Homo sapiens: one gene and its partners. The protein of the gene in region 3 purifies or fractionates together with the protein of the main gene of each other region. This does not show direct contact. Each region holds a gene or a part of one and is shown on either strand. Other genes may lie near its edges. The genes, in order: NETO2, EDA, IL9R and TM2D3.

Evidence for each region.
Region 1: the proteins of IL9R (region 3) and NETO2 purify together in Homo sapiens (affinity purification with mass spectrometry; 3 studies listed by BioGRID and IntAct, with this or other methods). This does not show direct contact.
Region 2: the proteins of IL9R (region 3) and EDA purify together in Homo sapiens (affinity purification with mass spectrometry; 3 studies listed by BioGRID and IntAct, with this or other methods). This does not show direct contact.
Region 4: the proteins of IL9R (region 3) and TM2D3 purify together in Homo sapiens (affinity purification with mass spectrometry; 2 studies listed by BioGRID and IntAct, with this or other methods). This does not show direct contact.

Annotation. Positions count from the first base shown.
Region 1 is NC_000016.10:47,077,946-47,084,971, forward strand, and holds part of NETO2 (neuropilin and tolloid-like protein 2 isoform 1 precursor), read right to left. Parts: intron 5,857-7,026; coding exon 5,276-5,856; 3' UTR 1-5,275. UniProt on the Homo sapiens protein: Accessory subunit of neuronal kainate-sensitive glutamate receptors, GRIK2 and GRIK3.
Region 2 is NC_000023.11:69,955,100-69,962,125, forward strand, and holds part of EDA (ectodysplasin-A), read left to right. Parts: intron 1-1,927; coding exon 1,928-2,033; intron 2,034-7,026. UniProt on the Homo sapiens protein: Cytokine which is involved in epithelial-mesenchymal signaling during morphogenesis of ectodermal organs. Functions as a ligand activating the DEATH-domain containing receptors EDAR and EDA2R. May also play a role in cell adhesion.
Region 3 is NC_000023.11:156,000,691-156,007,716, reverse strand, and holds part of IL9R (interleukin-9 receptor isoform 1 precursor), read right to left. Parts: intron 6,388-7,026; exon of another isoform or gene 6,310-6,387; coding exon of another isoform or gene 6,209-6,309; exon of another isoform or gene 4,849-6,208; coding exon of another isoform or gene 4,812-4,848; coding exon 4,698-4,811; intron 4,269-4,697; coding exon 4,157-4,268; intron 4,041-4,156; coding exon 3,862-4,040; intron 3,298-3,861; coding exon 3,152-3,297; intron 2,440-3,151; coding exon 2,238-2,439; intron 1,913-2,237; exon of another isoform or gene 1,885-1,912; coding exon of another isoform or gene 1,700-1,884; intron 1,635-1,699; coding exon 1,529-1,634; intron 195-1,528; coding exon 110-194; intron 1-109.
Region 4 is NC_000015.10:101,649,357-101,656,304, forward strand, and holds the start of TM2D3 (TM2 domain-containing protein 3 isoform a precursor), read right to left. Parts: upstream 3,026-6,948; 5' UTR 3,006-3,025; coding exon 2,915-3,005; intron 2,418-2,914; coding exon 2,340-2,417; intron 806-2,339; coding exon 648-805; intron 1-647. Other genes in the region: TARS3 (threonine--tRNA ligase 2, cytoplasmic), read right to left, coding at 5,226-5,374. UniProt on the Homo sapiens protein: Probable positive regulator of Notch signaling.

The DNA of each region.
Region 1 (7,026 bases), on a different chromosome or scaffold from region 3:
CTGTGTTATGGCTGGTGCACTGTGCACCCCGAAAGAACAGCTTGGCTCTCCAGCCCACTCTGTGACAGTCCTCACTGCCTCTTCAGTGACCGGATGCAGCAGACTGCAACCTGCAGGCAACCTGGGACAAAACGCATTTTTTTCTTTAGTTCATCTTCACTTGAAGATTAATGAATTTGAAAACATAAAATGGTTCTAAGTGTAATAAAATAAAGTTGCCCTTATCATAACTAGGATTATTGTATTTTGGAAGCTAGTGGATAGGAAATGCCAACTTTGCCCCGGAAGGAAATACAGATTCTGTTGGTATAAGTGATCTAAATTATTTGCCACTTCTAGACTTTAGAAATTGAGGCAAGCAAGGAAATCAGAACAAGTTTTTAATTCTAGTTCAAGAGTCAAAATTCTTTTCTATAAAATGCCAAATCTAGGATTAAGCATATTCTCATATGGCCTGGAAGTTCATCTCTAATAAAAATCTACTGCTTTTAAAAAGCTTACACTAGACAGTGCATACTAAACATGCACCCTAGTCATTAGCTTTTTAGGCTTTGGTAGTCATTAAACCAATTGCAAAAATACATTTTTAAAAAGTTAAAGTAAAGCAAATTCAGAGTTTTGAATTATTAGCAGAGGTATATAAAACATAAGTGATTTTGCAGAAAACTAAAATATCCAAGATAATCTTGTTATTTACAGTAACTCAAACTCCAATCATTCTCCAAAACTCAAGAGATATGGCACACAAATATTTAATTTCTAGAATACACGTCTCCTTTAGATTTAAAAAAGATCAAAAAAGCAAGAACACAGGAGCTCTTCCTGCCTAGTATCGAGCCTGTATACTGTTAACAAACATTGCTTAGTAAGAATTCACGGTGCCAAGGAATCATGGCAGCAAAACTGTAGAACACAATGTTACATACATTTAAAGAAAAGGGGAAATATAATGCATTGAAGAAATTACAGAATAAATTACATTTCAATTCAGAATGATTGACAAGCTTACATGGGCTGCTAAACAGAAGTGCTTGACTTTTAAAACGTACAGCTGGGCTGGGCGCCTTGGCTCACTCCTGTAATCCCAGCACTTTGGGAGGCCGAGGCGGGCGGATCACGAGGTCAGGAGATCGAGACCATCCTGGCTAACATGGTGAAACCCCGTCTCTACTAAAAATACAAAAAATTAGCCGGGCATGGTGGCGGGCGCCTGTAGTCCCAGCTACTCGAGAGGCTGAGACAGGAGAATGGCATGAACCCGGGAGGCGGAGCTTGCAGTGAGCCGAGATCACGCCACTGCACTCTAGCCTGGGTGACAGAGCGAGACTCTGTCTCAAAAAACAAAAAAACAGAAAAACAAAAACAGAAGGCCAGGCGCGGTGGCTCACGCCTGTAATCCCAGCACTTTGGGAGGCCGAGGCGGGTGGATCACGAGGTCAGGAGATTGAGACTATCCTGGCTAACACGGTGAAACCCCGTCTCTACTAAAAATACAAGAAATTAGCCGGGCATGGTGTCGGGCGCCTGTAGTCCCAGCTACTTGGGAGACTGAGGCAGGAGAATAGCGTGAACCCGGGAGGCGGAGCTTGCAGTGAGCCGAGATCGCGCCACTGCACTCCAGCCTGGGCGACAGAGCGAGACTCCGTCTCAAAAAAGAAAAAAACCAGAGTACTGGGGTTCTTGAGACACTGGTGCTGAGTTCACTTCTGTGGGCTTCAGTCTTCTCATTCATACACTTGGGCTAGATAGGTCTTTCTTGGATCTTTAAAACCACCAAAAACTCAATGATCCTTCTGGGTCTAATCAGTGTGATTCAAGGCATATTATTTTTAATGTCATATAATTCATGTCACTTGCAATAAAGTGACATGAACAATATATAGCAGACCCCATTTTGCAATAAGAGTATAATCTCCTTTGAGAATTATTCCTGAAATCACAACCAGGCTTCTCCCGTCCCCTCTCATCAGTGAACACACTCCTCAAACAGGGAAGCATTCTTCTCATCAGACATTGGCAGAACCATACAAATGTTCAGAGGCAGACTTTCAGGAGGTTCTTTTAAAGTCTAACAATTCTATGAAACATGACAAAGACACTGACATAAGCGCTGTCGGGTTAAAGGAGTCTTTGAAATCTCTTTTGTGATGTGAAATGTGAACATTCTTTGCCTTTTGTTAAACGTTTAGATTGACACTCTCCCCACACACAAAAGGAATATCACATCTTATTCCTACATGCTTTAGATGTTGGGATTAGTAGGTTTCCTGCAATAGATCTGTGGGCATTTGGGGGATGATGCGGTGAATTGCAGATGGAAGATAATGGTGACAGTATTATACAGGTATACTTAATGCTGTTTCTGAATTGAAGATATTTATCCCTTCCAGATTTGCATTTTGTGTTCAACACTGGGACACTGTGTGGGGTACCCTGCGTGACAGTTAATACTGTGTAATGAATTCCACAAGATTGCTAAATTTCATGTCTTCTGTTATTAAATTTTATGGCTTTCATTTTAGTAAGCAATTTATAAAGTTTTCTCACTGATCTCAAAGATTAAAGGCTGTATATACAGCAATTAGCATTATTCTGGCAATAATGCCTAAGATTTATTAGTTCCATTCTTACCTCTTCCAAAAGCATAGAGAAGTTTAATAAATAAATGAGATCTAATGCCCATCTATGATTCAATGAAGGTGTATAACATGTGACAGGCTAAGGCTGGCTTAGCTATTGATCATCTGGTTCTTTAGTTCTATCCCTGAAAATACAGACTGACCCTAAACCAATGTTCCTAGACGACATTAAGTTGTGCCTTCACTGGGTTAAGAAGCACCATTATAACCTCTGTCTCCATTTTGCATCTTTTTTACATTCTGAAGAAATGTTCCTATATACAGACCCTCATGCTGTAGTTCAAGAGGAAATTAGCCTCTGCACATAAGTTTTTTTACTGTGAAAAGCAAAAAGTGTTTTAGCAGCCAGAAAATTCAGAACCAAACTTACTGTCTAAATGTTACTTGCTACATTGACTCGTATAAAACTGTGTACTTCTATTTTACTGTTATGTCTTCTTTAAAGGCTCTGTATTTTGTAGGCCTCTTCAAGACCTTATAAATAGAAATCAAATTTCAAAAACAAAAATGTAGTTACAAGTGACTATAGTTTAGCATACTGTATTATTTGCTATTATAATCTAAAGATTAAATATAGGTTTAACAGCTATTTTAAAAAATGAATAATTTTACATAGAAAATATGCTAACTTCCCTTTTATCATCATAAGATCATAGTTGTTGTTATATTAAGTATTTATTATGCTGTTCAAATGTTAGCTGGTGTAAGTTACCTACTAAAATGCTTATTCAGCATAACTACTGAAAAAACTTAGCTGTCTCTGGTATTAGTTCATTGAATATTATATGCATCAAGTCTTTTCATGTTTCCACGTTATATTTTTAAAACAAGAAACTAGGCTGACTTAAAAAAATTTAAATCATGAATACATTATGTATAGGTTTTTCTGTCTCCTAAATATTATCTACTTTTTTAAAAAACAAAAATTTTGATACAAGAAAGCACTCTGAGGCAGTATATGTGTATTAAATTTAAGGTCACAATTTTCACTAATCTGAGAAAACACATATATGTAATATTTAAAAGTTAATGAAATCCAGTGAAACTTCAACTTATTTCATTGAGAATTTACTAACAAAATATAGAAAACAAGAATTTACCTCTTTTAAATGGCATGTCTGTATTACTTACAATTTGATAAATGAGTTCCTTTCCATACATACCTTAAGATCCACAACCTTGGTGGCATAAATAACATGATTAAAGGGTCAGGTACAATGTATATTTTAATATGGGATTTGTGTAGTGATTTAGAGCATAAATATCACACAGTGAAAAATTTATCACAAACTAAATACAGTAACAAAAGGAAAGAAAGAGCTTATGTCCACATTTCCAAGGTCTTTACAATAAGTTATAGCGTCCAGGTCCAACACAGCATATTTGCATACAAAGCCACTGATGTGAACACTGAAAGGAATCTGTCCTGTAGGTCTTTCATCTTGATTTAATAAAGTTTGTACAGTATCAAATAATATCAAAAGTCTAAAAAACACAATGAGCTTTTATGTTTATAAATTATTGTTTTTATACCATAAAAAAAGTCAAAAGTGCAGTTTAAAAAAAAGTGGAAGTTGTTATTCTTGATAAGAGCTAGAAAAATGTCATGTCCCAGTTAAGAAGCAATCTCAAGGCTCATCCAATTTCTAAGGAATTTTAACTGGCATCTAACCTTGGTTACCATATGCTGTAAGCAAAACCAACAGAATGGGAGCTATGTAACAATCTAGCGAAGAGAAACATTGCAAATAAATGTAATTATAGGCCTCTCCCAAAGTGAATGAAATGATTCTTTACTGGAATGAATGGGCTGTCACTGAATGTGACTATACTTGGTAAACTTCAAAGGCTTGCTAGAAATTTTTATCTTTTTCAAATTTTTAGTCATAGCTGACAATGGTACATATATCCCAGGATTATGAAATTTTCTAGTATAACTGAGAAAAATATAATTGAAAGGTAATAAATCATATCATCTATTATTTCTCACAGAAAATAAGGAATAAGGGCCCAGTAATTAAAAGGCAGAAGTACAGAGATTAGCCAAGAAGAAACAGATGGGTGAAATACAACTGGGTCTTAATTGGCACAGTAACTAGCTGTATTTTGACACACTCAAGAACAAATGCCTATACTGAAGTATGTGGTACATTAACCACTTGTACTTATGTAAGAAAATGAAATGGTAAAACGATAGGCTTATAAAACAAATTAAATTTAGAGAAAGGAAAAATAAAAGGAATGTAAAGAAAAATCAAGTTTATTGTGGCATCAAAATATTGACAGAGCTGTTATCAGTCAAGAGCAGTCTTCTTGTTGCTAAAACGAAGAGGCAGCCTGAGCCTGGCTCCATCCAACCACCTCTTCTAATGCTCTTTAACTGGCAGTGCTTCCTATAAATGACACCAAGCAATAGAGATGATTATTGTTTCCACTGAATAGAGTAAGTTCCTTGATTGGTTTAACATATATAGACTGCCTGAGAGAATAAAAACATCACCATACAATAGGTTAACGGTAAATCAAGGTCTTCGTAGTTGTGATGGGAGAAAAGGGTTGGCTGCTGGAAACAGTATGGTGCCCTGGAGGCTGCGTACGTACACACCCTAAGAATTCACATCACCATTAGCAGAAGATTAGAAGTCAATGGATATGGATGCTTGTGCAGAATCTTCTCGCCCCCTGACATAAATTTCACAGGGAATCTCCTCCATTACTCGGTCTTCCAGGGCCTGCTCAGGGCACTCATGTCCCTGTTTGAAAGTGTAACTACTTTTCTTGAAGGTGCTATTAAATGTTTTCATTGGCTGTGGTTGTGCAAAGTCATTTCGGAAAGGAAGTTCCATGGAACTGAGGTTGGTCCTGCTTTGTTTGACGCTGGAGGCCTGCGACCCACAGTGGTGGTCGTGGATGCAGCGGGAGGCGGTGGAGGAGCGCCGCATCTTCTGGTAGTTGTCCAATTCTTCCGACAAGTCTGCCAGGTCTGCAGAAATCTCTTTGTCCCTTAGTGAAAACAGTTCATAATGAGGAGGATCAAACACTTCTTGGAACCCGGTTTTATTAAAAGCGGTTTTGCAAGCCATGACCTTTTTTCGAGGCTGTTTCACTTGTACTAAAATAGAAATAATGAGAAGGACCAAGACAATCCCTGAAGTAATGCCAATAATTGTTCCATGAGTCTTAGTGATTTGTTCAAATACTCCTGCTTTTTTCTTTTCTGCAGAAAGAAAATGAGAAACGTTAAGTTTTCAAAATACATTAATATGAATCCTGGTACAAATTAGTAAGGTATTTTTAGGTAAAACAGAATACTTGGGCCAAATATACTACAGACAATGCAATTTACAATTAGGTTTTTAAACAAATAAAACAACCCTATTATAATTTCTGGTTAAAGTTACCAATCGCAGTACTGATAGATTACAGAAGATAAAGTTCTTGGTCCGTTTCTTCAGAAGACACATAAATGCATACATTCTGCAAATCAAATCAAATATACAAATATAGACTATGCCAAATAAATACTCTTGTTCTATCAAGTTTAGCTTTCTGCTTTATGGTAGGTTTGACCAACTGCTGTGTTCAGGTATACCCGCATCTACTGATGACCCCAGGGAGAGCAAACTAACATCATCAGACTAACCCATCCAGTATATTATCATGACCTACTGTTTTTGAATGATTAACTGAAAACACTTCATGTCGAGTATTTACGACAGCCATATCAGATTAGATCACCTTTCCACAGTAAGATATTTATTGAACTCTTACAGCAGGGGTCCTCAACCCCTGGGCCACAGACAGGAACTGGGTATCACTGCAGGAGGTGAGCTGCGAGTGAGCGAGTGAAGCTGCATCTGTATCTGCTGCTGCTCCCCATCACTCGCATTACCCGCAGCACTGCCTCCTGTCAGATCAGCAGTGGCATTAGATTCTCACAGCAGCAGGAGCCCTATTATGGATAACAATAATGGATTATTATTAGTGTGCTTACTTCTGTTAGGAAATAAACTCCTGGCTTGGAGGCAGAAGTCCAATAGAGTAGTATTAAGTATTTCAGTGTAAAGAAACAAACAAAACATATGAAAGTCAAGAAGTGAGGCAGCTTATTATTTTCCCATTCAGTATGACAGAAGCCCAAGTGCATGTGAGGGATATAGGCTGTGAGCTCCTTAGGAGAATCTAATGCCTGATGATCTGTCACTGTCTCTCATCACCCCCAGATGGGACTGTCTAGTTGAAGGAAAACAAGCTCAGGGCTCCCACTGATTCTGCATTATGGTGAGTTGTATGATTATTTTATTATATATTACAATGTAATAATAATAAAGTGCCCAATAAATGTAACGCGCTTAAATCATCCTGAAACCAACCCCCCTGCCCCACC
Region 2 (7,026 bases), about 86 Mb from region 3:
TTGAGATTTTATTGTAAACAGCAGTTTAGTTTTATACTATTATTAGTACTTAGCTTATTTATATTGTGAGTTAAGTAACTTTCTGTGGGCTTATCAGGAGAACTAGCCAAACTTTATTATGTTGATTGTATGAGAAAATGCATTTTTACATTCCAATCAAGTGACTCAAAAATACTACTCAGTTGAACCATGTGAAATTGTTGATTGATATTCAACCATTTTTGACAAAAATGGCAGTTTATTTTGAAATGCAGTCCTGTTGACAAGATGGAAATTACCTACACATTGATTTATTAATTTTATATTTAATACATTCATGTATCCTTCAAGATGCTAATCCTACACCTTAAGGATATTGGGTAAATCACAGAATTTTGAAGAAAATTTGTGTGGAATATTGGGGCTTTCTTGGGTCCAACCCATTTTTTTTCCACTTAATCAGAGATGGAGCAGACATGAGGACTCTGGAATTTTTTATTTTTTGAACTGATAATAGAATGAAAATGCAGATTCATTTGTTCTATTTTAGGCCCCAAATTAACCATTCTATTTTGAAGATTAAGTTTAATAATAATAGTAATAGCAAACATTTATTAAGTGCATGCTACATGCTAAGTACTGTTCTAACTCTGCAACTGTTTTATCTGCAAAGTACTATTATTATCCCTACTTACTGATGAGGAAACTAAAGTTTAAGTAACTTGTTCCAGGTTATACAGCTAGTAAGTGGCAGAGTTGGCATTAGAATCACTCAGTCCTACTACCGTGTTTACTGTTTACCTCAAGCACATGGTTTTACCACAGTAAAGCACTCATGCTAAAAGATTATGATTCAATTCAGCAAATATATATTTAAGCTATGATTATTAGTGAAGCCAGACCCATTCACATATGAAACATATTGTATTATTATCAGAGACCATTATAAGACAGTAGAGGACCAGGTACCAAAATTAGTCTTATAGACCACAAGTGCTATAGGAATCTCAGAAGAGGAGAAAATAATTGTGTACTTTGTCATGACTAACTCCCAGAAGAGCATTGACAAATAGTACCTCAGTATTGGATGCACAGCATTTTGGGAACAAACCAAAATTACATCATAAATAGCAATGTGGCAAAATCATGAATGTGTAATAATGAAGTCCAATGGGGAGCAGCAAATTCAAGGTTTTCTTTCTTTCTTTCTTTCTTTCTTTCTTTCTTTCTTTCTCTTTCTCTTTCTCTTTCTCTTTCTTTCTTCTTTTTTTTTTTTTTTTTTTACAGAGTTTTGCTCTTGTTGCCCAGGCTGGAGTGCAGTGGTGCGACCTCAGCTCACTGCAACCTCTGCCTCCCAGGTTCAGGCGATTCTCCTACCTCAGCCTCCCCAGTAGCTGGGATTATAGGCACCCCCCACCACCACACCCGGCTAATTTTGTATTTTTAGTAGAGATGGGGTTTCACCATGTTGGTCAGGCTGGTTTCGAACTCCTGACCTCAGGTGATCCGCCCACCTCGGCCTCCCAAAGTGCTGGGATTACAGGCGTGAGCCACTGCTCCCAGCCAAATTCAAGGTTTTCTGTTCAATTTTCTGTTCAACTCAAATTCTGAGTGAGCATCCTCAGTATGTGTGGGAAGTTAGAAATTTGTGGCTAGGCTCTCTGAATCCCAGAAATATATGAAGAAATGGGACCTGATGGATTATTTATTAGATATTCAGGGTGGAAGAAATGGGATTCAGAAATTAACCAAAATGTCATGCCTACATGATTGGAATAATAATGGTATCAAAAATAAAATGGTTTGTACAGTGGAGGGGAAGATGGGCTCAGGCTTTAGACACATCAAACTTAAGGTACAGGTAGACTGTCTATGGAAAGCTGGTTTTTTATGTTGGCTATGACTGAGTGGGGTCAACCTTTGACTAATGTACTTGTAATTTTTACAGATGGCCCTATTGAATTTCTTCTTCCCTGATGAAAAGCCATACTCTGAAGAAGAAAGTAGGCGTGTTCGCCGCAATAAAAGAAGCAAAAGCAATGAAGGAGCAGATGGTAAGTCTACTCAGTTGATCCTTTATCACTTCTGAATTATTTGTTAGTAAAAGTATCCTTTTAAGAACTACCTTCTTGGTAGGGCATGGTGGCTCACGCCTGTAATCCTAGCACTTTGGGAGGCCCACGCGGGCAGATCACTTGAGGTGAGGAATTCAAAACCAGCCTGGCCAACATGGTGAAACCCTGTCTCTACTAAAAATACAAAAAAAATTAGCCGGGCCTAGTCCCAGCTGCTTGGGAGACTAAGGCAGGAGAATCGCTTGAAACTGGGAGGTAGAGGTTGCAGTGAGCTGAGACTGTGCCACTGCACTCCAGCCTGGGTGACAGTGCGAGACTCCATCTCAAAAAAAAAAAAACAAAAAAAAAAAACCACTACCTTTTCAAGTGTGCTTCATCATCTTATATACTGTCCACCACAGACCCAAGGTCATAGACTATTTCTGCAGCCTAACCTACCAATCAGTCCTTTAACATAGAACTAACTATACAAGGATCCTCCCTCCTCCAACTCCAGATACCTTCAGTCCTTTCTCAGTATGTCTGAGAGCCATGATAGCATTTGTATCTCTCAAAATCACCCTCTATAAGGGCCTCATCTCTCCCGGAGATGTCCCACACCTATTAAGGTCAACAGGAGGATTTGGTTCTATTCTTGGAATTGACAGTGTTGTACCCTGCTAGCACTTACATGATGTGTTAATTCCAATGATAATTTTATCAATGTTGGTATCCACTACCATGCCCAAATCTGAACTAGACCTTCTAGAACTAGTTTATAAGTTTCTTGTGGGCAGAGATTTCATTTCTCTTTGTATAAGCCTAGAATCTAGCCTACTATCTGGAACATTGTTGGTGATTGTTATGTAAGTCGATGATGTTGACTGCCCCTTCAGCTAGGCAGTGATGTATCAATGGAAACCATCCCTGTTCTGGGTGTAATAGCTTTGAGTTAACTAGCAATGCATTCTGTGGGGCATAACAAAATGTTGAGCTAGCTCCTGGGCAGGGTCTTTGAATTGCTCTGATATTTCAGCATCACTCTGTCAATTGACATAATGCTACCCCTTTGGGCACAGGGGTTTGTAGAATACATAGCTCTGGGCTGCTGCAAAGGCATCTGGATTCAAAGACAGCATGTGTCTGGCTACATCTGCCAATAATATGTGTCTGGAGGGTTACAAAGCAATATGACTTTATACAGATGAAAATGAAAATTTTAAACTGACATTTGTTGATGTGAGTAAGGGCCACTGATGGAAGCAGTTTTAGAGGGCGGAAGCTATTAAAGAGATGGAGCCAGGACTTTGTCAGTAGGGGCAATAAGAAGTATAACTGGCTGAAATCTGAGAAAGAGCTCAGAACAAGGACCCCATAATAATACCAAAAAAAAAAAAAAAAAGAGCCAGAGCAGTAAGATAGGGTTTTCTAGTCAGTGGAGGTGGCAGCAGCATTGAGCCTTTGAATGGAGAACTGGACCAGTGGGGCCATTCTCTAGAGAAGTCATTTTGCATACAATTGATGACCAATTCAAGCCTAAGAAATGCAGTCCATGTAGTAAAAGTTACCCATTATTCACCTACTACTTGTAGCCAGTTTCCCAGAAGTCTTCTGGCTATGTGGAAGCAGGGAGCTAAGAAGCATGGACCCTTTCCTCTCCTAATCATCTCACCCTCTGATACATGTAAGTCTCTCCACCTTCAGCTTTTCCCCTGAGGCTACTCCCACAACCATCAAACTTTTCATAATCCCTGGTTGCAAAGGAAGAGAGGAGACAGGTGGTAAGAGCAATATCACCTTCTATAGTGGGCGTGGTCTTCCCTCCCTCTCTGAGTGGTAAGTCTAATGGCTTCTAAGGTTTACCTCTTCATCTAACCTCCGAAGTTTTCTCTTAAAGAAAATAATTTCCTCCTTTCCCTAAAACTACTTTATCCAAATTCAGCTACCAACGTCTCTGATACCGATCTTCCTTAGAATGTTTATTCTGTCCTAATACAAAACAGTTTTCTCTCTGGTCAAGGTCAAAGCCTCTCATTAATTTTTAGCACTTCTTATATACTTCCCTCCTGATCTGATACTCTAGTCAGTCACTAGACTCTAGTCTCTTGGTGCCAATGCCAAGTTTCTCATGCAGTCCAGGCATTTTTCTTTAATCAGTATAGCTTGGAGGAATCCAAGAGTCCCTTAGAGTTAGGAGTATAGAATGCCTGGGGGTCCTTGAATTTTATTAGATTTCCAACTTTTCACCTGGTGGTCTGTAGAACCATTTCTTTAGATGTGGCAGATGCTCCAATGAGTTAAAGAGTGGTAAGTCAATCCAAATCTCCTTTTCCTTTGAACCATTCTTGTTACTCTGATGAGCGTATACTATATTTATTCAATACACTCATCAAATATTTACTAAGTAAATACAGCAGTTTATATAGTACTTGAATAAACATTCAATAAGGATTTTTTTTAATATTCCCACTGCCTAGAAACAGACTTGGCACCTAGTAGACCCTCAATAAATATGTCCTGTTGCCCTCAAAGTGATTTACTTCCAGCATAAAGAGGCAGACAATAAATAAAGTTGGTTAAATTTGATAAGTGGTATGAAGAAAAATATAGCTGAGCAACAGGGAGAGAGAGTGATGGGGTATGCTGTAAGATGATCAAGGAAGGTACTCTGATAAGGGAACATTTGGGAAGAGACCTGAATGAAATGAAGTAAGAGCTATGCAAATGTCTGGGGAAAAAAGAAGCAGAAAATTCAAAGGCTCTGAAGCAGAAGAATGTTTGGTATGTTCCAGAAAGATCAGTGTGGCTGGGAGCAGAGTAAGAAGAGGAAGAGGGAAGGAGATGAGTTAAGAAAGCAAAATCCAATCTAGAGCCTTGTTGGCCAAGGTAAGGACTCTGGCTTTTATTCTGCATGAAATGGAGGACCACTGGAGGATTTTGAGCAGAGGAATGACAGGATCTGATGTATGTTTTAACAGCATTCCTCTGGCTGCTGTATTGAAAATAGGTGCAGGAAGAAAGGATACAAGCAGGAAGAATCTTTAGGAGAGTATTACAATAATCCAGGCAAGAGATGATGGTGGCTTAGACCAGGATGGAAGCAGTGTGGGTGGGGAGAAGTGGTCAGATTTTAGAGAGATTTTGAAGGAATGGCTGAAGGATTTTTCAGATTGATTAGATAAGGGATATGACAGACAGAGAAGAGGCATCAGTGACCCCAGGGTTTTGGACTTCAGGAACTAAACAGGTAGAATTGCCATTTCTGAGATGAGGAAGCAAAGGAGAGAAGCAGTGTAGAGGAATATGGGGAAAGAGTTTAGTTAGGCTTGTTAAATTTGAGGTAGCTATTAAACAGCCAAGTGGATATATAAGTCTACACTAAACATCACTGTGTATCATGAAAATAAGATGACTCTCTTTTGTACAAAGGACTTGTCATTGAAGAAGTGAGTCAGTCTGGAAACTGCTCTGAACAGAATAAGAGGTAGGATGGGATAGGTAAATCATAGTGGGGTGAGTTATGGCCAAAAAAAAAATCTTATCAGGTGTTGATTATAAATTCACAAATTACTTGATATGTTATAATAAAAATTTAACTATCTAAGCTCAGGTTTGCCTCACAAGTGTCAAAGAACAAGTCATTTACCTTGAAGAGTTAAGAACATGGCAGAAGTTCGTGACCAGCCTGGGCAACATGGTGAAACCCCGTCTCTACCAAAAATACAAAAAAAAAAAAAATAGCGGGGCACTGTGGCACACACCTGTAGTCCCAGCTACTCAGGAGGCTGAGGTAGGAGAATTGCTTGAGCCCAAGAGGCAGAGGTTGCAGTGAGCCAAGATCGTGCCACTGCACTTCAGCCTAGGCAACAGAGTGAAACTCCATCCAAAAAAAGAAAAAAAAAGAAAGAAAGAAAGAAAGAAAAAGAAAGTCTAGACCCTACTTCATTTGTTTGGTCATTCATCATTTAACAAATGTTTTTTACAGGTGCCCGCCACAACACCCAGCTAATTTTTGTATTTTTAGTAGAGACTGGGTTTCACTATGTTGGCCAGGCTGGTCTCGAACTGCTGACGTTGAGTGATCCGCCCACCTCAGCCTCCCAAAGTGCTGGGATTACAGGGGTAAGCCACTGCATCCAGCCTAGACTTTCTTTCTAGGAACTATAGATATTAAGCTTAATGATCTCCACAAATCCCTGTGAGAGAAAAAAATTTTTATAAACAGTTCATTAACTCTTGGAAACGGAAGGGATGTAGTGATCCTTAGGAGCTGCATAGGTTCACCAAGAACAAATCAGGCTGCAGAAGCCTATTTTCCTGTTTTCATCAGACTATTAAACTAGTTGATTAGAGGCATAGCATACACATAGTCTATCTTGCCTTTTAAAAAGAAAGTCAGTGGCAATATCCAGGGTATATACAATCTTTCTGACTCACCATTCAAGAATGACTAGGTTCATCTCAGTTTCTCCATTCAAATTACTTTATAAATGAAAGCATTGGCTAGCTAAGCAGGAGTCTCAAACACATGGTTAGTTTCAACTCTTAGAAAAGAAGTGAATTTCGTTTTCTTTACTACATTTCTTCCTTGAATTCACTGACTTGAGTTGGCCAGAAGTATTTCAGATCGTTTAAGTTTATTCGTACTAATTATGTGAGGCCTTTGGTTGTTGTTCTTCTTCAAAGAAAGTATGATACCTTCACTGTGGGTGTTGAGTCACAACAGTTCTAGAAATCTGTGCCAGGATTTCTTGCTGTGTCTTATCTTTGTGATGTGTTTCTGAAGTAATAATAGCTCCAGGTGGCTTGTTTGGTCATCTCTTGCACAGCACTCCAGAAATCCACAGAACTTTATTTTCTAGTTAGAATGAAATGTAGAATGTATTTGGGAGGTCATGAGGCCTTAGAATCAGGTAAAATGAATCCAGAATTCCCAAGGAGGTAGTTTCCATATTTCACAAATATTATTGTAAAAACATCTGTTCTCTTCCGA
Region 3 (7,026 bases):
CAAGCCTCCCATACTGGCCGCCAACCCTCAGTGAAAGCCAACATCTTGGGCAGGCCAGAGCTCTGGGCAACCCCTGCCCCCCATGTCCTTCTGTGGTCTCTGCACACACCTGGAAGTTCCCATTGTGTACACTGTAGAGGGGCTGGAAGAACATCGCTGGAGAGGGCACGTTCTGGTAGAAGATTCTCTTCACCCTGAGGCCAAGAGAGGCCAGTCAGAGGCCTATGGCGACCCAGGTGGCCTGAGGTCACTGCAGAGGCTGAGCTTCCTTCCATCAGCAGGAGGTCCGCCCACCTCGTCCCTGCCACTGCCTCTCTCCCATCTCATCACATTCCAACCCACTCTCAGGGCAGGACCCAACTGGGCCTCCTTGCCTAACGGCCGCATAGAACTGATTTATACTGAGGCGCGCGTCCTTTACAGCGTGAGCTGCGATGGCGGGTTCAGAACGGGGAGTTACTAGCTGGGTCCTCAGATCACAGAGGGAGCCAGCACTCCAGGAACCCTGTCTTTGCCATCAGCAGAAGGTCTGTGGCTCCCACCCCACCCAGTGTCTCCCTGAGCACCAGACTTGCTGCCAAGGATCCACTGACCCTCCCACAAGGATGTCACCTGGGGCTCCAACCCAACAGGTCCAAATAGACTTCACCAACCTCCCTGCAAGGCTGTCCCCCATTTCCCCACCTCAGGGGTCACCACTCATATCTCATCCACCCACATGTCCCTTCTATTTCCCCTCATGAGACCCTGCAATTCTCTCCACTTTTCTCTATCTCCACTTCTTTCACTGGCTCATGCCAAATCGTCTCCCTGTGGGCACCTCACTGGCCCCCATTGGCCTCCAGCAGGTCCCCCATGTCCCCTTGTCCCAGCAATCTATTCCTCAAAACATAAACTAGGTTGTGTCACACAGTTTTACACTTTCCTTTGCTCCAAGGAGAAGCGAAGCACCCTCCCACTTAGCCCCACCCAACACCCCTCTCCCCACACCCTCTTCCTCACATCTGCGGCCTGACATGGCCCCTGCACCCTGTCTTGTAACCTGACATGTGGTGCATGAGGCGTGACGGTTTATTTAAGGAGGGCCCTTGTCCATCTTGTTCTGAGAACAGGGTCCTGAGCACACCAGATGCCCCAACTGTCCTTTCGTAGAACATGTGAACAAATGAACAAACCAAGCTCCTCCAGAGGCAGGAGACTAGGACCTCCGGCTCTTGATCTCGGTGACTCTGGGTCTGGTCGGGACCAAGCTGCCCTTATCTTCAGCCTCTGCCTCAGACCCCCCTTCCCTGCTCTCCCCTGGCAACTTGAGAACCCTCTTCTGGACCAGGGTGGAGACTCGAAAAGCCCACCCCGTCCAGGACCAGGCAGTGGAGAGGGGAGGGGAGGAACCAGACAAGGGCGGCCCTTGATGGCCCACCCACCACACACTCACACATGCACACAGTCACACATCTGCACACATACACTAACATGCACACTCTTGCCCGCTCACACATGTACACACACGCACACATCAGCCACCTACCTGGGCGACAGCTTGAACAGGAGGTAGGTCGGGCCAGTCAGCAGGAGAAAGATGGACACAGCAACAAGGGTGTTGCCTGGCCACCCCCAGGGTGGGATCAGAGGGCCTGTGGACAGGAAGGGCCCAGGGCTGTGAGCAGCCTCAGTGCCAGGAGGCTCCCCCCAAACCCACCTGGCAAAGGTGCGCCCTTTAGTGCCCTGGGCCAAAGTGGAAGGTTTGTGATGGGCCTTGGAGGTTTGTGTCACCTGCTGAAGGACCTTGTGATGGGCCTTGGAGGTTTGTGTCACCTGCTGAAGGACCTTGTGTGAACCACACTCCTGGGCCTCACTCTTCCCATCTGCCACAAGGTGGGTCATAAAGTCCCTGGGCCATCTCAGCACTGCAGTGCGCAAGGGTCAGTCCAGCCCCCATTAAGGACACTGAGGTCATGTCCAGCCTCCAGGCAGGAGCCCAGCCCTGGTGTGCAGCCCTGCCACCCTCACTCCTAACAGCAGCCACTAACTACAGGTTCCCAGGAAGCCCCAGAGTTGGCAGGTGTTTCTGTCCTCCCTACAGACCTCAGACCTTCAGAGGAAGGGGGTCAACTGAGGCATGGCTGCCTCGGGGAGGGGCTTACAGGAGGGTGAAAGGGTGCAGGGCTGAGGTGAACAGGGGAGAAGACGCCCAGCCCAGACTCCGCTGGAAGTGCAGCAGCCACAGCAGTGCCCACCTTGTCTCTGGGGAGCCTGGAAGCACACAGGCTGGCTCCACTCACTCCACTGGCCTGTATAACGCTCCTCCTCTACCACATCATCCTCCAGTGTGGCCATCTGGACACGCAGCCTGGCCTCATGGATAAAGCCAGGGTCCAGCTCAAAGGCTTCAAGTATAAGCCAGGTCACCCCGACAATGTGATCCCTGTGCTGGGCCTGCTGTGGGGGTGGGGACAGTTAGCAGGTGGTGAAGGTGGGGCTGGGTCCCTCAGCCCTCGAGAATACACACATGCATTATATGCTCATATAACACACTCTTGAACACACTTGTGTTAACACACAGACACACTCACCACATTCACGTGCACACACACACACAGAAGGCACACTCACACTCACAGACACAGCTGCGTTTGCCCACAAATACACATATGCACACACAGGCAAACATGTCTACAGGAACACTTTCACACTCATCACACTTGCATGCACACTCATAAACAAAAGTGTGTGCACAGAAGCAACTCACCACACTCACATACACACTCATACACATAGGCATGCCCATGTGCACACTCACACAAATGCAAGGCACAGGCACACACATATGTACACTTACATATAAACACACAAACATGGGCACACAAACATGAGTGTGCACAGTTACATATGTGTACACATAAACACATACATGCACACTCACCACACTTATGTGCACACACAGAGACACAGGCGCACTCACCCTACTCCCATACACACACATAAAGCATACACATCTGCATGCCAGCATGTGTGTGTGCACACACACCCCGCTCTAGTTCCTCCCTTCTCATCACTACAAGTTGACATCTCCCTATGTAGAGTGGGGAGTCTACCCTGGACTGCTGTTCCCAGGAGAGAGGCCCCCAGGGAAAGCCAGCCAAAGTGTTACCTCCCAGGCCTCTTCCTGCTTCTTGAAGGCCAGCTCATAGCTGAGAAGTGTGGTCATTGGCTCCAAGGCAGGACTGATGCTCCAGGTCAGGATGCAGTGGCCAGAACTGATGTTGCTCTGCAAGTCAGAGGGCGGGTCCAGCTTAACTGGAACAGAGTGAATCCATGTGAGGCTGAAGCCCCATGGGTCTGGGTGTGTCAGTCAGAACACACAAGACTGGGGTCTGAAAGACTCCCAAGGGGAATGGTCAAGGCCCTCTCAGACCAGGCACCTCACTGGGAGACTGGTCCACAAAAGCCCCAGGCGGGACAGGACAGCAATGACTTCCTCTGGCCTCTGCACCTAGACTAGGTGGTTTCTAAATCTTGCTTTCCCTTTCCTTCACAGTCTGCTGCTGGAAGCTTTTCCCAGCATCTTATTGGAGTCCTTCCTGGTATGACTGAAGTGCATTTCACATGACTCAAGTGCCAGCCCCTGCCCCAACTAGCAGCCGTGCATGTTTATTTCCTGCCAAAACCCTGCCCCTGCAGTAACCATATGGGCCCTCCCCTCCCAAGGGCCAAGCCTGCCCCCAGCCCTGGATCTCACTCGGCTGGGACTGAGAACACTCACTGGGCCACTCACAGGCTGCAAGGCCCTGCTCCAAACCCCCAAGCAGCCAGGATGTTCTTGCCAAGCGGCCCCGCCCCAGACCTATAGCTGCTGCTCACCGTGTCTCCGGGGCAGGTACTCCGGGTCCACCAGGCTGACCTGCTCCCTCCCAGACATGCAGTGGTGGAAAGTGATGGTGAAATTGTCAGATGGCACGAGCACTGCCTCAGGTGGCAGCACGACGGTGCACTCACTGCCCCGCAAGATGCACTTATGTGTGCCGCCAGGAGCCTGGTTGCTGGAAAGGGCATTTGTCAGCACCACGGGGCTGCTACACTGTCCTGGCATAGCTGCTTCAATCCTGGGGAACTCACCCTCATCCCTGTCCAGGTGGGCATGGCCCTCCATGCTCACCTGGTGAAGAGGAGCCAGGGGCTGGAGCCCTGTCCCAGCTCTGGGGCAGACCAGTGGCAATCGATCCTGAGAATGTTGTTGGTGAGGCAGGTGAAGGTTCTAGACCTTGGCCCTGGAGACAGTGACCATCAGGAGCCCACGGTAAGTACTTCAGGCCAGAGCTGAGCTCGGGGGTTGGGGAGGATCTGACAGCTGACACCCTAGCAGGGCAGTCACCAGTAAATGATCCCAGAATCTGTCCAGGGAAGCACTGGGAGGCCTGGGAAGTGATGGGCTCTGACCTGTGGTACACGGGCAAGTCAGATCTGGAGAGGCGTCAAGAGAGTGAAGGAAGGGAGACTACAGTCGGTCCAGGGAATGAAGGTAGGGAGGTAAAAGTAGGGAGACTAGAGACTGAGGTCCAGGCTGACCCCTAGAGGACATGCCCCAGCACAGTTTGGGCCAAACCTTTCCCTAGAGGCTTGACATCGGACAACCCAGTCCCCCAAACATGCCCTAGTTCTCCACCCACCTCATACAGACATTAGTGCCCAGCCCTCACCTTGTCCTTCCCCTGTGACAGAGACTCCCAAGCAGACACAGGTGCAGATGCAGATGCAGGCCAGGAGCCAGGTGCCCATGTCTCGCCTCAGGGCCTCACTCTCCAAGGTCCAGCCTGCAAGGGACTGGGCTGAGGGCCCTGTGCAAATCATCCCTCTCTGGAGGGGTGCTCCCCATGAATTGCTCCCCAGCAGAGTGCTCCATGGGTCCCCACCTGCACTCACACAGTGTCCTGTGTCCTAACACTCACACAGTGTCCAGCGTCCTGGACCACTGTCCAGGCTTTACTGATAAGGAACTGAGCTCAGAAAGGCCATTTGACTCAGCCAAAGACTCATGGCTGCAGGGTGTAAGGAACACCCTCAAACTTAGATCCTGGCCTCTGACTCAGCTAGGTCTCCACATCTGCCGAGAAGACTCCTCTCTGGGACAGTCATCCTCTGCCAGCCCATCCCCCATTCCCGGGCCCAGGCCCCATCCTGCAGGGGAGTCAGGGTTGGGGGAACTGGTCACTACCAACAACCACCATAGGTACATTTTCTACTTTAATTCTCACAACAGCTCTGTAAGGGAGAAGCACTGTCCCCGTTCACAGGCAAGGAACTGAGTCCCAAGGAGGGGAAATGACTTGCCCAGGGTCACACAGACAAATTCTAAGCAAATTTTTTTTTTTGAGACAGTCTCCCTCTGTCACCCAGGCTAGAGTGCAGTGGTGTGATCTTGGCTCACTGCAACCTCCGCCTCCTGGGTTCAAGTGATTATCCTGCCTCAGCCTCCCGAGTAGCTGGGATTACAGGCATCTCCCGCCATGCCCAGCTAATTTTTTTTTTTTTGTATTTTTAGTAGAGACGGGGTTTCACCATGTTGGCCAGGCTAGTCTTGACCTCCTGACCTCAAGGGATCCACCTGCCTTGGCCTCCCAAAGTGTTGGGATTACAGGCGTGAGCACCAGACCCAGCCTCTATGCATTCTCTCTCCCTTTTGTCCTCTTAAATAAAGACCCATCCAACTGTTCTGCCCCAGAAAGGTGGACGAGGGTGGCAGCAGGGTATCCATGCAACAGATGGCACTTTCTGAACTCTGTTGCACCCCTGTTCCAAGGCACCTGCAAAGAAGAGCAACACCAGAAGGGCAAAGCCCCCGGATGCTGGAGCGTGAGGCCTGAGCCCCAGGATCCCTAGGGGAGCCAGAGGTTGGCTAGAGATGAGGGGCTGGGTGTCAGGAAGTGCTTGGGTGTGGGAAGGCCGCTGACGCCCTATCACCCCATTTGCAACTCCAGATGGTACACCGATAGCCCCTAGGCAGGAAGCAGGGCCAGCCTGGTTATACAAGACTGATTACTGATAGGAGGAGGAAAAAACCAGACACGCACACAGACTTACAGCCTTAAAGGACCGCACAAACCAATGGGCAGCAGGCACTACTCTAACCCCACTCTGCCCCACTCCCGGCAGCGTATACAGGTACCCATAGGACAGTCCCCTGTTAAGACTGATGATCAGGAAGCCTCACCCTTTCCTAGAATGGAGCGTGCAGCCTGGAACCACCAGCCACAGCATGAAACACCGTGGCAAGTTCTCTGCAGCAGTGTCTGTCCGTTCTTGCAGCAGTTACTGGAAAGGTGGGAATGGGGAAGGCAGTCAGCCTGCTCTTGGGATATGTGAGGGCAGGGTTGGAGTCACCACCAGGACCTGGGGAAGCACAGGCACAACGGCCACAGCTGAGAGCTGACCCAGGCCCCAGAATGGACAACTGCTGCCCCAGCAGTGGAGAAACACCCACATCTATGTAGAATCAGGCCAGGCCAGCCACAGGCTAACCCAGGAGCAGACGGCTTGAGAGCAGGGAGTGGGATGGCTCCAAGCTCAGCAGGCCTCGTTTCTAGACAGGGAAGGGGGATGGTAGGGCAGGATCCACATGTGACACCTGAGAGCTACAAAGTAGGACCGGAGAGTTGGGTACAGCGACAAGGGGGTATGGCCATCTGAGGGGAAGTTCTCTGCTTTTCCTCTGCACTGAAAACTTACATCTGTACCTGGTAAGCTGAGCAGGGCAGGGTCACCACCCTCCTACAGATGAAGAAACTGAGGCTCAGAGACCTGGGACCTGCCCAATACCTGGCTCCTGACACCTCTCTTCTTGGCCCATTCCCACCAGCTTCCACATAAGCCTGTGAACTTCCCGAGGGCAGTGCCTGCGAGGCACCACTCAGCACATGCCCCAGCAGAAGGCACCACAGTGCTTTATAAATGGGGTGGAGCTGCAGGCAGAGCTGCCTTCCCCCATCCTTGACCACAGGGCCAGGCAGTCAGGGCAGATGCATACACCCT
Region 4 (6,948 bases), on a different chromosome or scaffold from region 3:
AATTCTTTATTTTATGGCTTCTAAACTTTATTTCATACTTAGAAAAATATTCTCCATTTTGGGATTATAACAGCAACTATCTGGTGTTTTCTGTGGTACTTCAGGGTTTCATTTTTCACATTACATCTTTGGACTATCTGGAATTTATTCTGGATAAGACAGGCGTTCCACTTAATTTTGTTCTAGAGAGCTACCAGGCATTCCGGCATTTACTGAATCCATCTTCTCACCACAGATAAGCACTGGCCCTTCAAAAGCTCATCTATGGCAGAAAGACACTGCCACCCCCTCTGTACACTAGCTGTCACTATTGAGAACACAGAATCCATCTGAACGAATTAGACTTGCTTCAGATATGCTAGTAGACTGAGATCTTCTCCAGTCCTACAAAGCAACATTTCTGTCAAGTGCATTTCCAGCAGACATCAACTGGCTTGACAGTTATCATTATAACTAAAACAGTAGTGAGCTGATATGGAAAGGTCTATTGGGTTTTTTAATTTATTTCTGCTTACATACTCAAAAGGGAAATCATAAAAGAATATAAAAATTCTTCAGAATTTCTTCCCAATAATCAAGTCTGAATTGTTCTTCTAACTTAAAGTTTACAATGAATTTATTTAGAATAAGTAAGCTGCAGTACTTACAACACAGGTAACAGATGGTTTCACTGCACAGTCAAAAGTGACAGGCTTCCCATAGGTACAGGAGAAATTTGTTGTGCAGTCTATACAGTCTGCAGGAAGCCTGCTACACAAACCATTGCTCGGACACTTCATCACATAAGGTGGGATTTCAGTACTTTCTGTGAGAGGCAAGAGAGAAGCTTATTCTCCTATAATACTGATTCGAATAACAGAGAACAATCTTCTAAGGTTAAGAGACGTGATCATTAGCAAGTAGACACTGCACTGGAAGGGAAGAAGCATGGGACTGGAGTCAGAGACACCTGCAATTAAAGCAGAATTCTGCCCACGGCCAGCTGTGGGACCTGGTGAGCACCACACTTGTAAAACATTACTTCATTCCTGCCTCCCACGTGGCCGTGAAAACTAAAGGTGCTCATATACAAATAATGTATAGAAAATTCTGGGTATACATTAAGGGCTTAAAAAAAAGACTATCATTTTGTAAGTTGAAAAAAAACTTACAGTAGGGTTTTGCAAAATCACAGAGGAAGTCTGTGGCAAAACTGGAACTAGAACCCAAATCTCTCCATTTCCAATCCCGTGTTCTTTTCATCTGAATTCACTAATTCAGAAATGAAGCCACTGACATCCTCAGGGCATCAACTTTAAAATGTCATTATTTCACACTGGTACTTCGATAAGCCACATTTGCTAATATAATATTTACAGTTTTACGCTACCAAAGTTCAAAACAGTTCTCTACTTTAATAACATCTTCAGTAAGCTGCAACTTATTTCCAACCAACCTAATGAGTGTGCAATGTATTTTTACCAACTGAAAGGATCAAAATTGCAAGTATTCCTGAAAAGAAGGGCTTTCAAAAGCCTGCAAGAGTTAAGAACTCTTGTGCTTTCTCTAAAAAGTAATCTGAGTTTAAAATTCAAGTGCACTGCTGTTTTTTACATCCAAATAAGAATCAGTAAAATATCTCTGCCAGTTTCAATTCACTGAAGTAATGTCACTTTAAAGTGATGAAATTATAGTCAGAGCCTCCACCTAGCAAAACACACTAATGCTTGTTTAAAACTGGTCCTACTTTACTCACTGTATTAAGGAACAATTCTACAAAATACTCTTTTTGATCCCGTGACTATGTGGCTGGAAGGTGGACACTTAGAATCACAAAGCAGAAATGACTTTAGGTCGTCAGACCAACCCCACCGCTTTAAAGATGAGGACCAAGGTCCAAAGAGGATAAATAATTTGTTCAAGATCCCAGTAGCAAAACCAGATCTAGATTTCAAGTCTCCATCAGTCCCGCTGTAATCCTTCCATTTCCACAGTCCTGAGGGAGCCTTTAATATTCCAACATCAGGAACAGGGTTTTAGCAGTAGAGGAAATTTGCTGAAGGGAAAGAAGCACGGACTGAAGGTTATTTTGATGGATGAAGTGGAAAAATAATAGAAATAAGGTGACAAATGAGCGTGGGATTGGAAAAAGAGAGGAGGCAGAAACGTCAAAAGGTATAAATACGAAGACTATCTACTGAAAATGGCTGTGTATCTACCCTTAATTCACATAATCTAAAATACAATAAATATTCAAAAATGGAAAGTGACTTCGTATACTAAAGGGAATTTTTATAAAAACAAAGAGAAACTACTAGAGATAACTACATGTATTTACTAGAATAGAAAACGTCTAGTACCTGCTGCCCTGGGAACTACTGTGAATGTGCGTGTTGGGCCCGGATCCTTTATTGACTGAGCCAGCGCCTGCGATTGCTCTAAATTTAAGGATCGTACAATTAGAGAAACACGTTATCCCGGGACAAGAAAACCTTATTTTGTGTGGTTAACACGGCGGGTCTACACCAGGCCAATAAGCTGCTCATGAAAACCTCACGGCTGGTCAGCCAGAAAACACAAAGCTTAGGGACGAAACGTCAACAGAGTAGACATCAGTTCAGGTCAGCCGGCAACGAGGGACCGAAGGATGACATCGCGCTCCAGTTCCGCCTCCCCGGCCCAGCCCCCAAGCGCTCCATCTCCGTGCCAGGGCTCCGCAGCCGCGATGGCGGGCTCGGTGTCGCCGGAGCGGAGGGGCGGCCTCGGGCCGGGCGGCCAGGGCGCCAGACTCCAGATGCAGCGACAAGCGGCCCGGAGCCCGGCACTCGGCCTCCTCCCCGCGTCAGCGTCCGCCCGTGGGCCCGGCCTCCTCGCAGCTCCCGGGGCCCTGCTGCCACTCAGCCCCACCCGGCGCTGAACCCAGCCTTTGACTCACCACCGCCCGACAGAATGCAGAACTGCGAGAGGAAGAGCAGCACGCGACACAAGGCGCGGAGGCCCCTCAGCGGGAGCACCCCTCCCGCCATCTTGCCAGCGCCTGCGCACTTCCGGGCCGGGGGGCGGGGCGCGCCTGGGAGCCGGAGCGTGAACTGGACGCAGGCGCGCTGCGACTCCTGGCGGCCGGCGTTTGCGCTTTCGCTGTCCTCGCGCGGGTCGCGGGTTTTCTTCCGGTTGAGCCTTCTGGGAGGTCCCCGAGGAGGATGCGAGCCTGGGAGGTTGTTCCATTTCCACGCGCCCCTCACGCCCTTGGACGAGGCCCTCACCCCTGGTTCCACTGCAGGAGACCTGTTAAAGGTCATCCGTGGACCGAAATGCGCGCCCGAAGCAACCAAGAGCAGAGGCGGGCGAACGCGGGAGGCTGGCCGCCCCAGTGTGTGGTCGGATGTTGTGTGCTGGATCTCGTGCGAAGGTTCCGAGGACACTATCGCGTGGCGTTTCATCCTAAAGACACTTATTTACAGTCGGGGAAGCGGCCCCGGGACGACGAGGGCCCGAGGGACCCCTCCCCTGGGGCCGGCGCTCAGGCCTGCCGCGGCTTTCACTTCTGGCCGGCCTCTTGAAGATACGCAGCACTTCCAGAAAGTTCCTCTCAGGCCTGGAGAAGCAGGATGGCCCGAGGCGCTGGGAAGTGAGGGGAGGGTCCAGAGCCCAGCCCTGCCTGGGGAAGGTCGCGGCCGTCTGGGGAGCCGCGCTCAGGCCCCAGCTTGCGGAGACCCTTGCCGGTTTCTGTCACAGCACACCTGGGAGAAAGCGCTGGTGACAGGTGCTCTCCTCCCACCCACGTGCTTCGGGATCGTTCATTCCGCGGTCTTCTGACTACCACCCCCTCACGTGCATGTTTGCTGAATGACTTTTTAAAAAATACATGGAAAAGTGCCGGCACATAAGCCCTGAATGTTAGCTTTAAAAATCGTATCACGGCCGGGGGCGGTGAATCACGTCTGTAATCCCAGCACTTTGGGAGGCCCAGGCGGGCGGATCACGAGGTTAGGAAATCGAAACCATCCTGGCTAACAACACGGTGAAACCCTGTCTCTACTAAAAATACAAAAAAATTAGCCAGGCGTGGAGGCACGCGCCTGTGGTCCCAGCTACTGGGGAAGCTGAGGCAGGAGAATCGCCTAAACCCGGGAAGCGGAGGTTGTAGTGAGCCGAGATCGCGCCACTGCACTCCAGCCTGGGTGACAGAGCGAGACTCCGTCTCAAAAAATAAATAATAAAAATCATATCACACAATCTGCACCTTATACTACTACACAAGCCTGATATATATTGTTTTGTTTGCCAACTGTTTCACTGTTCACATCCCTCAGGAAGTTAACTAAATGATCAGTATATTGAAAAGAGATTATTTCTTACATTTCTTTTGAATTTCACAGCATATCGCAAAATAAACAATACTTCTTGTTTGGTAGCTGAATTCTCTATTGACATAATGCCATTTTAATTCAGTTCTGAGCACGTAGAGCATTCCTCTCTTTAAAATCTGAAATCCATTTCAGTACATAAATCCATGGAATGTCATCCCATCAAAAAAGTAACAACTCTAGGTGAGCGGCTTAGTGGTGGTAGAAGCCCACAGCTGAAACGCTGGAAACACTGATGCAATTCATTTGGGAATTTATTTTTTTCTAAAGCGGAACAAAACCTAATTATGAATAAGAAACATTTAAATGGCAACTCTTAACCTATAGTGCAAACACCAGATTCCACAAAACTGAATTCCTTTGTCAGTAATCCAATATTTAGCAGTAGCTGCTGCTTTTGTGGTTGTTGGTTAGTTAAAATTAAGTAATGATTCCAGTTTAGAAGATAAAGTTTCAGTGTGAATTTTAGTAGAAGTCATAAAAATACCTGAGACATATTAGAAAATAAGATTTTCCCTCCTATTTAAAAAAAACTCTGCAGACTTTTATTTGAAGCCCATCTTTTGAAAATCACTAACATTTCATAATCATTTCCTAGTGTTTTGTTTCACTTTCTCGATGAATAATATTTCCCCATTTAAGTTTCTCAAGGCATTGATTGCTGGAAAATTTCCCACGTGCCCTCTAAACGTCCCCCGTGGACATGAGTAAATTAAACTTCGTGCATGTCAGCTACACGTTCATCGTCTCCTTTCTCAGCTGAGGCCATGAGTGGACCCATCAGTGGCTCCAAAGTCGTAGAAGTACTAACATGTTAAGAAAAATACATTTTTAAGGGTCAAAACAAAGTTACACAGAAGCAAATATCAGGGAAGGACTTCAAAAGGCCTCCTCAGCATTGAGTGTCCGTGTCTTCCTGAGATTCTTCAGTTTATCAATGGCAGAAGTTACTAAAATCTCTCCATGAATTTTGTTGTCTCTTGTTCGCACGTTTACAGCATTATCTATCTTTTCCTTTTCTCCAACCACTGCAGAAAAGAAAGGTAAAGAAATGTATTTTAAATCAGCAATTTACCAAACATTAAGTCAGCAGTCCCATGACATGTTTTTATCAAGTTTTTCTTCACTAATATTAAATATCATCTAATGAGCATTTGGTTCATCCTCTGATAGTTAAGTTTCTTGAGGGAAGCAATGACTTCTGATCCCATCTCTCTATTGTCCACCTGAGAGAACAGCTCTTGTGGTCCTGGGGTGCAGATGAGAGGGGGGAGCTCTTACAGACTCACACTGACTGCACCTGGCACTAGGGCGCAAATGAGAGCGGGGAGCTCTTACAGGCTCACAGTGACCCCACCTGGCACTAGGGCGCAAATGAGAGCGGGGAGCTCTTACAGGCTCACACTGACCCCACCTGGCACTAGGGTGCAAATGAGAGCGGGGAGCTCTTACAGGCTCACACTGACTCCACCTGGCACTAGGGCGCAAATGAGAGCGGGGAGCTCTTACAGGCTCACACTGACCCCACCTGGCACTAGGGTGCAAATGAGAGGGGGGAGCTCTTACAGGCTCACAGTGACTCCACCTGGCACTAGGGCGCAGATGAGAGGGGGGAGCTCTTACAGGCTCACACTGACCCCACCTGGCACTAGGGTGCAAATGAGAGGGGGGAGCTCTTACAGGCTCACAGTGACTCCACCTGGCACTAGGGCGCAAATGAGAGCGGGGAGCTCTTACAGGCTCACAGTGACTCCACCTGGCACTAGGGCGCAAATGAGAGCGGGGAGCTCTTACAGGCTCACACTGACCCCACCTGGCACTAGGGCGCAAATGAGAGCGGGGAGCTCTTACAGACTCACAGTGACTCCACCTGGCACTAGGGCGCAAATGAGAGCGGGGAGCTCTTACAGGCTCACAGTGACTCCACCTGGCACTAGGGCGCAAATGAGAGCGGGGAGCTCTTACAGACTCACAGTGACTCCACCTGGCACTAGGGTGCAAATGAGAGCGGGGAGCTCTTACAGGCTCACACTGACCCCACCTGGCACTAGGGTGCAGATGAGAGTGGGGAGCTCTTACAGGCTCACACTGACCCCACCTGGCACTAGGGTGCAGATGAGAGCGGGGAGCTCTTACAGGCTCACGCTGACTCCACCTGGCATACCTGATGAGCCAAGGAGTGGACACCAGACCCATGCGAGCCAGCCAGAACTTTCTGGAATGTGGGTAAAAAGTTTGTTCTCTCTAGTGACCCATATTGTGAGATGATGCAGGAATCTACAGCCATGCTTCTTGCCACACAGAAGGAAGAAACCGGTCTGCAGATAAGTGGAATAAGGTAGATATTCAAGAGAAGCATAAAGAACCAGAGCAAGACAGGAACGAGAAATGGGGAGAAATACTCCTGGTGAGGGTTGAGCTCCTGATTGCTCTTCTAGTGGTTTGGCTATTTAATTCTACCTTTCATGTCATGGGATACTCCAAGACCCTTCCAACAAATGCTGTCTTTGTCTAAACCAAGTTGAGATTTCTGCCACCATAAGAAGCCTGACTGAAACAGCACAATACCTACTCTGGTGTCAAACATTATCATTGAAACACT